3 linked regions of the Homo sapiens genome follow. The protein of the gene in region 2 purifies or fractionates together with the protein of the main gene of each other region. This does not show direct contact. Each region holds a gene or a part of one and is shown on either strand. Other genes may lie near its edges.

Region 1 (3,393 bases), on a different chromosome or scaffold from region 2:
AAATTAAAGTCTTCTAATGGGTAGAACATGCTATTAGCTTAGACTTAAGAACCACAGAACCCTTGGTTAAACAAGCAAGATAACTTTCAAGGCTCAAAAACCTTAAGAAAATGCTTCACCTTTTTAAAGTTCTATAGAAAACCAGAAGAAAGTGGACAGGTTTTGTGAAAGCTGGCTTTTGATTGCCAGGCTGACAAATGACAAACATGTCCATTTCCCTTAATGGAGCTACAGATGTAGAAGGAATTTCCATTCTCATTGGGAGGTTACAGATAAGGGAGATGGTTTTGAAAGCCCTAGCTAAAATTCAAAATGCACGTTCTCATAATACATGAAATGTTTAAGTTTTACAGTGCTAATGTATCAGTTTATATGATCTAGTAGGAAAGCCTCTCTAGGTTCTAATCAACCTAGTTTTACATTTTCAAATAGACTTTGGAATCTACTGTGTGGATTCACCATAAACATATGTTAACATGATTAATGTTATAATCTGCTATAAGGAATAAAAAATGATTGAACTTTAAAAGTTAAGGGGGAAAAAAATTACTTCAGTTTAAAAGGTAGCTCCCAGACAGGCAGTAAGTTAGTCAAACTTGTTTTTTTATAAACAATATGGTTCATTTAGAGAATTATAGAGTAAGAAATTACTGAATCTCTAAAATCTGTAAGACATCCATATTTAAAGCTACTTTGATTGGTGGTTTTAATTTCCTTGTTCACTTTCCCCCACAAAAAAAAAATCCCTTCAGAATTAATAAGAACTTATAGCTTCTCTATTCCTCTTACCTTTCCTGGAGAAATGCATAAGTCCTCTTTCTGAATTATCTGTGAACTTGATTTAATGACAAAGAGCAAAGTAAATGAAAAGCCCAAAACTATCTGAAAATGAATTGTAATAAAATTTTATCATGGTGCTCTTACTTTTCAATGACATCTGCAATGAACTGGCTAGCCACTTGGGCCTCTTCTCCAGGAGGTCCAGACCGGAATCTCGATGAACACAGGGGTGGTAGATCCACATTAGGAACTGAAAGAAACACTCTGCAGCTATGAACTAAACCTTTTTTTTTTTTTTTTTTTTTTTGAGATGGAGTCTTGCTCTGTTGCCAGGCTGGAGTGCATTGGTGCGATCTCAGCTTACTGCAACCTCTACCTCCCAGGTTCAAGAGATTTCCTTGCCTCAGCCTCCCAAGTAGCTGAGATTACAGGCACACGCCACCACGCCCGGCTAATTTTTTGTATTTTAGTAGACAGGGTTTTACCATATTGGCCAAGATGGTCTCGATCGCCTGACCTCGTGATCCGCCCGCCTCAGCCTCGCAAAGTGCTGAGGTTACAGGTGTGAGCCACCATGCCCGGCCTAAACTTTTCAATTTATGGATTACTGAAGTGTTAAAGGTATTATCAATCCACAGTAAAGGCAACTGTGGCCATGGACAGGCTCTTCTGAGTAGAATACATTGTAACATTATAGTTATATTCTGTTTGGTCTCTCTAAGACTCCCAGCCATGAAATTTCTATTTTTCTGACATTTTTCCCCCATATGCCTTTTTAAAAAATCTATTTTAGACCTCAATTCTAAATCCTTTACGAGTTTTCCTGGTATCTTTCAAAATACCTCAATCTGTAACTGAAGTATATATAGCCCCTCTGCTAACATCCAACTGTTTTTCTCATTTAAAAAAAATGTTGGTTCCTACCATAAAGAACAGATGGTTCCAAGGCAAGAAAAAAATAGCAGTTGTATAAAGCAAAGAATCTTTATGGAAACAAAAGGTGTGCAATGACAGTTCTTTGACTTAAAAAAATTCCATTCTATTTTTTTTTTCTTTTGAAACAGGGTTTCACTCTGTCACTCAGGCTTGAATGCAGTGACACAATTATAGTTCATTGTAGCCTCAACCTCCCAGGCTCAAGCAATCCTCCTGCTTCAGCCTCCCAAGTAGCTGGGACACAGGTGTGCACTGGCACACCCAGCTAACTTGATTTTTTTTGTAGATACGGGGTCTCCTTTGTTTCCCAGGCTGGTCTTGAACTGCTGGGCTGAAGCGATCCTGCTGTCTTGGCCTCCCAAAATCCTGGTATTATAGGTGTGAGTCACCACACCCAGCCAAAATTCTATTTTCTTGGTTAGTAACTTATGAATGTATAAACAAAAATTGAGCAAACAAGTTTGATAAAGGTTAAATTTATGAAATTCTATATCCTGCTATTATGCTATCTTTTACTAACACACGGAAAACTTTTGAGGAATTTGTTTTATTCATAAATATTTCCGAATATTAGGAATAATTTTCTTTACATCAACTTAACTAGGACTTAACTAAAAATTATTAAATGTGTTAAAAGTATTTGTATTAAAATTACAAAACCATTTAACTTACCAACGTATCCTTTATCAGGGGCATCTGTTGATGGTGCTGCAAATTCCTATAGTAGCAAAGAAATGTTTCCTATTGAAAGAAGCTACTGAAAAATTATGAAGACAATTTAGCAATCAGTTATGGAAGGCTCTATCAAATATCAGCTTAGGGAATTGTGTCAGGGCCTCTACGGACATTGGTGCTGATCCTCACAATAGCTCTACAAGATAAGAAGGCACTACAGTACAGTGGACTACACTACAGTGCTGCTCGGCAAGATTACCTGGAGATCTTTTAAAAAATAGTAACTGGGTTTGTGCCCCCAACTACTAGCCAAGAATCTTAATTTGTTCTCCAGATGATAGAGCAAGATTTAGGAACTGCTGCTTTAGTGGTAAAGAGCAAAAGCTCAGCTGGGCGCGGTGGCTCACACCGGTAATCCCAGCACTTTGGGACACAGAGGCGGGCGGATCACCTGAGGTCAGGAGTTTGAGACCAGCCTGGCCAAGATGGCAAAACCCCGTCTCTACTAAAAATACAAAAATTAGCCAGGCATGGTGGCGGGCGCCTGTAATCCCAGCTACTTGGGAGGCTGAGGCAGGAGAATCACTTCAACCCAGGAGACGGAACTTGCAGTGAGCTGACATCGTGCCACTGCACTCCAGCCTGGGCGACAGAGCAAGACTCCGTCTCAAAAAAAAAAAAAAAAGCAAATGCTCTGCAATTACTAAGCCAGTTCAAATGTCAGAGCCATACTTACTGGCTGAGAGACTTCAGGCAAGTTATTTAACCTCTTACCTTAAACTCCTCATCTTGTCAAATGGGAAGAAAATAGTGTCTACTCCTAGGGACTGTTAATAAGGGCCAAATGAGATAGACCTGTTAAATCCCAGGCATAAAACCTGACAAGGAGCAAGTTCTCAAATCTTACTGTTATACATCACTCCAGGTTTACGAAAGAAGAATCTCAACTGAGGTTAAATAACACAGGGTATACTGTAGTCAAAGAAGCACAGGCTTTGGAGT
Region 2 (3,500 bases):
TTATTTATTTATTTTTGGAGATGGAGTCTTGCTCTGTCACCCAGGCTGGAGTGCAGTGGAGCGATCCTGGCTCACTGCAACCTCCGCCTCCCAGGTTCAAGCAATTCTCATGTCTCAGTCTCCCGAGTAGCTAGGACTACAGGCGTGCATCACACACAGCTGGCTAATTTTTTGTATTTTAGTAGAGATGGGTTTCACCGTGTTGCCCAGTCTGGAACTCCTGAGGTCAGGCAATCTGCCCAACTTGGCCTGTCAAAATGCTAGGATTACAGGCGTGAGCCACCGCGCCCGGCTGTGTATGATGTTTTTAGTTTCAATGTTGACATGTTTTCAATTCTCTTAGTTATACACTTAGGAAGTTTTATATATTTTTACCTATTAAATACTCCTTGGAAACATCTATTTCTCTCTATCTCTAAGCTACCAACATTCCCTCATCTGGACTAAAGCAAAAGCCTCCTCCCTTCTTTTTTCCAGGCCTCTTCTCTACCTGGCCCAGTAATCCCTTTTTTTTTTTTTTTTGAGATGGAGTTTTGCTCTTTTGCCCAGACGGGAGTGCAACGGCGTGATCGTGGCTCACTGCAACCTCCGCCTCCCAAGTTCAAGCAATTCTCCCACCTCAGCCTCCTGAGTAGCTGGGATTATTACAGGCACCCACCATCACGCCCAGATAATTTTTGGATTTTTGTAGTGATGGGGCTTCACCATGTTGGCCTGGCTGGTCTTCAACTCCTGACCTCAAGTGATCCACCCACCTCCACCTCCCAAAGTGCTGGGATTACAAGTGTGAACCACCGCTGAGTAATCCTTTCAGGACAGGAATCTGATCATGTTATCCCATTTTGCTTAAAAGTTTTCCCTGACATCCCTGAGGCCATGAGGCCTTCCATCCCACCCAGGCATTCTTTCTGCTCCTGGGGTGTGCCACAGGCCCCTCCCCATGGGCCCCAGGCATTTTCCTCTGCCTTGAAAGCTTTCCTCCACTCTGCCTGGTTTATGCCAACCCTTGGACCTCCACCTAGGCGTCCCCCTCAGAAAAGCCCTTCCTTGCCTCCCTGGGTGGTCTGGGCTCTCCTGGCGCCCCATCCCTGTGCTTCAGTGCATTTGTCACAGTTGCAGTTCTGCATCTGTTTGTGTAATTGCCCGATTACTGCCTGTCACCCTGCCAGGACTCCATCTGCTTTGGTTCGCCACTGTACCCTCAGTGCTAGCAGTTTCTGGCACATATAGTCTCTTGGTGAACATTTGTTGAATAAACCAACACACATGTGAACACATGAACATGGTGGACAAAACAGCCTTACAGAGTTGTCAGGGGGACTCCTCATTAAATAAGCATTTATTTGAAGATTATTAGATGGCAGAACATGTGATTATCCTGAACGACTTAAGACCTGACATTAGTCATACTGTTCTGTGCAATACACTTATGAGAACAAGCATTCTCTGCATTGATATTATTGAAGTCAAAATAGGAAATCTTATTACAAATATAACCAGATTAAAGGCTGTGTCTTTCCATTGTTAAACCTAACTCTGGTGATTTTGTTTCAGCAAAACAATGTTATCTGTCACGTTGAATAATGTTCATTTGCGGTTTTCTGATTTTGTTACTTTGATTATTTAGCTTACACTAGGGTTGTATTAAAGTACTTAAACATGAGGACTTATACCGAGATTTATGTTTAAACACATTTAAATAACAATAGAAGAAAATAACACTGGGTATCCAGGAGGATTTTTTTCTTTTAGAAACAAGATGGATATATCACTCATGTTGAGAACACTGAGGTACTGGATGGGGAGTTAGATCATGTGACCTTTCAGATCTCTCCAACCATAATATTCTACAATTTCAATCTTTTTTTTTTTTTTTTTTTTTTTTTTTGAGACGGAGTCTTGCTTTTGTTGCCCAGGCTGGAGTGCTGTAGCATGATCTCGGCTCACCACAACCTCCGCCTCCCGGGTTCAAGCGATTTTCCTGCCTCCGTCTCCTGAGTAGCTGGGATTACTGGCATGCGCCACGTCATCTCGCGCATTTTGTATCTTTAGTAGTGACAGGATTTCGCCATGTTGGCCAGGCTGGTATCAAACTCTTGACCTCAAGTGATCTACCTGCCTTAGCCTCCCAAAGTGCTGAGATTATGGGCATGAGCTACTCAGCCTGGCCTGATTCCCATCTTATATACCATCAAGAAACTGAGGCATGAAATATGGAGACTCTCTGAAGCTATACAGAAGGAATTCAGGAGGGAGTCAAAAGGAACAAGCAAAGCATCCTACACCAGACACCAGACAGGACCAGGGATTATTAACTGACAAAACTTTCCTAACCAAGAATGTTCCTAAAAGCATATTGGATAAAATGAATTATTTACTTGCATCTCAAAAATGTCCAAGGAAGAAATGAAAAACAAAACAAAATGTTCCCCAACATTAAATGAACAAAACACTAGAGAGCTTCTGCTAGGCCAAGTTCAGTTAAATATAAAAAGTTAATTATCACCAAAAAAATGTTAAGTATGTAAAGTAATGCATATGCTAATTAGCTTGATTTGGCCTTTCCACAATGTATACATATTTTAAAACATCATGTTGTATACCATAAATATATATGATTTTTAAAAATAAGTTTTTTAATAGAGACAGGGGTCTCACTATGTTGCACAGATTGGTCTTGAACTGGGCTCAAGTTATCCTCCTGTCTTGGCCTCCCAAAGTGCTGGGATTATAAGTATGAGCCACCAGGCCTGGCCAAATACATACAATTTTAATCTGTCAATTAAAAAAAGTCAAATAACTTACACTTAACACTTAGGAAGGCTGAATTAATCAAGCACATCTCTCAGATCTTATGTATTCAATGCCTATTATTAATTTGAAAGTTAGCCTTTAAGAAATGACACTTTCTAGTGCTCAGACAATTTGGGTCATTTAGCTATGTCAACCTGAAGGCACCTGCTGGTTGCTTAACAGGTAAACAAAGTGCCAAGTCCCAAATTTGCTGATTTCTTCCTCTTCTTCAATCATACTCGTAATACGCCTTAAAGACCAGTCTCAAATCCATTTCCCCCAAAGGATTTTTTGGCCTAATTGCTCCACTCCACGTTTACTTCTGCACTTTGCATAGTCCACGTTAAATTATCCTTCGTGTGTCTAAGGCGCTTCATAATAACTGTCTTGTTTCTTCTATCTAACCCCAGCAAGACAATAGGTTTGTTGTTAGAGGGACTAAGACTGATTTTGGGCCGGGCACAGTGGCTCATGCCTGTAATCCCAGCACTTTGGGAGGCTGAGGCAGGCGGATCATGAGGTAAGGAGTTCAACACAAGTCTGACCAACATGGTGAAACCCCATCTCTACTAAAAATACAAAAATTAGCCGGGCGTGGTGGCGTGCACCTGTAATCCCAGCTACTCAGGAGGCTGAGGCAGGAGAATCACTTGAACCCGGGAGGTGGAGGTTGCAGTGACCTGTGAGCCGAAATCACGCCACTGTAC
Region 3 (3,729 bases), on a different chromosome or scaffold from region 2:
CTGAGGTGCGAGAGGTTGAGGTTGAGGACTAGAATTAGACACTGTAGAAGGCTTTACTGGAACGTGGCCCTGAACTGGACAGACATTTTATGGATGGGCAGAGAGAGAAGGTATTGTGACCCCATTTTACAGAAGTGGAAAGTGAAGCCCAGAGGAAGGCGTGGAGGATCAGCAGCAGAGCTGGAACCGGTTGACTAAAGCTGTGGTCTTTGTCTGGCTGCTAGGCCTGGAGAAGAAACACATTAGGAAACTGAGGCAGAGCCAGCTGACTCCCAACCTGTGCTCTCTTTCCACTGTGAGCTTCCTGCAGGCAGCAGCGAGGTGGCTCTTCCTCCATTGCCCTGCCAGCTCTGTCACCGGGGAGTGGCTGCTACCCAAGTTTCGGGCCTGGCTTTGCCAGTGCCTCCCCCTCGTGTCTTTGGAAGGTTTCTTCCCCTCTCTGACCCTATTTGCCAACAAATGTGTGGTACGTACTTCAGTACATACCTATTGAATATTATTATATTCCCCATCTAACAGATGAGGAGATTGAGACTCAAGGAGTAAGTCACTTGTTCAAGGTCACACAGCTGAGCAAAACTAGGTCTGGAACCCAGGGCTACTTGATCCCCGGACCACTTTTAACCACTCTGCCATACTGCCCTTCTGTGACCGATTAGTGATGTCTGCCATAGGCATCAGCCTGGTGGAGGGAGGCATGGATCTGCTCTGCTGGCCAGGCCTACAGTAGAAACTTCTTAGGCTGGGCGTGGTGGCTCATGCCTGTAATCCCAGCACTTTGGGAGGCCGAGGCAGGTGGATCACCTGAGGTCAGGAGTTTTCAGACCAGCCTGGCCAACATAGTGAAACCCCATCTCTACTAAAAATACAAAGATTAGCCGGGTGTGGTGGTGGGTGCCTGTAATCCCAGCTACTCAGGAGGCTGAGGCAGGAGAATTGCTTGAACCCAGGAGGTGGAGGTTGCAGTGAGCCGAGATCACACCATTGCACTCCAGCCTGGGCAACAAGAGCGAAACTCCATCTCCAAAAAAAAAAAAAAGAAACTTAACCATTTCCTGTGGTGCTCAGCTCCTGGCCTGTTGTCTGAATGCCGCCTGCATGGCATTGGTGGATGCAGGTGTGCCCATGCGGGCTCTCTTCTGTGGGGTCGCCTGCGCCCTGGACTCTGATGGGACCCTCGTGCTGGATCCTACATCCAAGCAAGAAAAGGTAGGTGTGAAGACCAGGGTGGCTGAAGGGCAGAGGCCAGACAGCTGCCCGTCCCTTCCTCCAGGCCTCGCTTCTCTACAGACAGTCGGCTCATGCCACCTCAATCCCACTTAGCAAGGGCTGCTCTAATCATCATGGTTCATTTAGCAGCAAGTGCTGGAAACCCAGCTCAGACTTGCTTAATTAGGAAGGAAATGTGGGGCCGGGAGCGGTGGCTCACGCCTGTAATCCCAGCACTTTGGGAGGCTGAGGTGGGTGGATCACCTGAGGTCGGGAGTTCGAGATCAGTCTGACCAACATGGAGAAACCCCATCTCTACTAAAAATACAAAATTAGCCAGGTGTGGTGGCGCACGCCTGTAATCCCAGCTACTCAGGAGGCTGAGGCAGGAGAATCGCTTGAACCCAGGACGCGGAGGTTGTGGTGAGCCGAGATCGCGCCATTGCACTCCAGCCTGGGCAATAAGAGTGAAACTCCATCTCAAAAAATATAAATAAATAAACTAGAAAGGAAATGTATGGCCAGGTGTGGTGGCTCACACCTGTAATGCCAGCACTTTGGGAGTCTGAGGCAGGCAGATCACCTGAGGCTGGGAGTTGAAGACCAGCCTGGCCAACATTGCAAAACCCTGTCTCTACTAAAAATACAAAGGTTAGCTAGGCATGGTGGCACACATCTGTAATCTCAGCTACTCAGGAGGCTGAGGCAGGAGAATCACTTAAACCTGGAGGGTGGAGGTTACAGTGAGCTGAGATCGCACCACTTCACTCCAGCCTGGATGAAAGAGTGAAACTCTCAAAAATAAAATAAAATAAAACCAGGACTTTAAACACCATCAGGATGTCCTTGCTTCACTTCTCGTCCCTGCCTTTCTCTGCACATCAGCTTCATTCTTTCTGGCCAGCACCTTTCCTGAGGCTGGGACTGACCCCTTAAGCTCCATTTCCATCCTAGGAGGCTCAAAAGCAAACGAGAAGAGAGTTTTCCTCATCGGCTCAGGTGCAGTGTCCTAAGCTCAAGTTATTCTGAGTTTTCTGCCCAGTGCTATAATGGTCCCCTCTAGTCAAGAAGACGGAAACCACTTGGAGGGTTTCAGATGGAGGGAGTTAAATGCAGGGACTTTGTAACAACAGTGTTGAGGAACTAGAGGAGGAAAAAGGAAGCAGGAGTGACACCCAGAGATGAGAAACCCCTCCCAGACCTGGACTGAACCTGCGAGCCACCTCCTGTTCTGTCGTGTTGGAGACATCATCTCAATTGGTTCTGGATGCACATAGCATGTCCTGCTTCTGCCCTGGCCACTGAGGTCCAGAACCCACCCCACCTCCATGGCTGTCACACAGCCACAGCCATCAGCACCTGCCATTGTCCATGAGGACCAGGGTGCTGCTTTTCTTCCATTCTCCCACCTCATTACTGATGGAAACTAGCTGGTAAGGGAGTCTGGGAAATACAGCTTGCTGGCTTCCAGCCCCTGTGGGACAGAGCATGGAAGGGGGACTGGGAGGCCGAGAGGTACCAGATAAGTGAGTGGCACTATGGCTAGCCCCTTGGGGCAGGAATACTGAGCTTGGAAGCCCCTGTCAGAACCACGTGGTTGGAATAAGGGGCATGGAGTACAGTTCTACAAAGGAAAGGCAGAGGGCTATACCCAGGGAAGTAGGGAAGGGGTAGCGTAGACAAAAAATGGCTGCGCTTGATGCTTGATAGGTGAGCGCCTGGCTATGGAAAGGGAGAGGCCTGGAGGCCAAGGGTCCGGAGTCCCCTCAGTGGGACTGGCTGCAAGTGTGTGGTGGGAAGGGGAGCGTTGAGACAGGGTCTCACTGTCGCCCATGCTGGAGTGTAGTACGATCACAGCTCACTGCAGCTTCAAACTCCTGGGCTCAAGCAGTCCTCCCACCTCTGCCTCCTGAGTAGCTGGGAACTCAGACATGCACCCCCACACCCAGCTACCTTTTTTTTTTTTTTTTTTCTGAGATGGGGTCTCCCTCTGTTGCCCAGATTGGTCTTGAGTTTCTGGCCTCAAGCAGTGCCCTGCCTTGGCCTCCCAAAGTGGTGAGATTATGGTCATGAGCCACTGTGCCTGGCCAAAGGACTGGCTGAGATTTTATCTGAGGGGAAGGTCCTAGGTCCCCCACCGCCTTCTACCCCTTGTCCCTAGGAGGCCCGGGCAGTCCTGACCTTTGCCCTGGACAGCGTGGAACGGAAGCTGCTGATGTCCAGCACCAAGGGGCTCTACTCAGACACTGAGGTACCAGCATGGGGATGAGGGGAAAAGCCAGAACCTTCCTTCCCACTGACATACGGTCTTGTCCCAACTCTGCCCTGGATTCTGAGAGGCTTCAGGAGAGCCTCTTAAATTTCTTCTTGTAAAAAGGGAGTTTTCAAACTTTGTGGACCCAGAAACCTTTGCGGAAATGTTTAAGGGAAGCCCAATTTATAACACAGGCAAAAAGAGGATGAGCTCAGTTTGAAGTCAGAAGAGGGCATGTGATGGTCCCCCAGCTCCCAGCTCAGAGT

What was found.
Region 1: the proteins of DIS3L (region 2) and EXOSC8 purify together in Homo sapiens (affinity purification with mass spectrometry; 6 studies listed by BioGRID and IntAct, with this or other methods). This does not show direct contact.
Region 3: the proteins of DIS3L (region 2) and EXOSC5 purify together in Homo sapiens (affinity purification with mass spectrometry; 5 studies listed by BioGRID and IntAct, with this or other methods). This does not show direct contact.

Annotation. Positions count from the first base shown.
Region 1 is NC_000013.11:37,003,557-37,006,949, reverse strand, and holds part of EXOSC8 (exosome complex component RRP43), read right to left. Parts: intron 2,435-3,393; coding exon 2,389-2,434; intron 1,031-2,388; coding exon 925-1,030; intron 836-924; coding exon 790-835; intron 1-789. UniProt on the Homo sapiens protein: Non-catalytic component of the RNA exosome complex which has 3'->5' exoribonuclease activity and participates in a multitude of cellular RNA processing and degradation events.
Region 2 is NC_000015.10:66,296,568-66,300,067, reverse strand, and holds part of DIS3L (DIS3-like exonuclease 1), read right to left. Parts: intron 1-3,500. UniProt on the Homo sapiens protein: Catalytic component of the RNA exosome complex which has 3'->5' exoribonuclease activity and participates in a multitude of cellular RNA processing and degradation events.
Region 3 is NC_000019.10:41,387,245-41,390,973, reverse strand, and holds part of EXOSC5 (exosome complex component RRP46), read left to right. Parts: intron 1-1,068; coding exon 1,069-1,209; intron 1,210-3,370; coding exon 3,371-3,460; intron 3,461-3,729. UniProt on the Homo sapiens protein: Non-catalytic component of the RNA exosome complex which has 3'->5' exoribonuclease activity and participates in a multitude of cellular RNA processing and degradation events.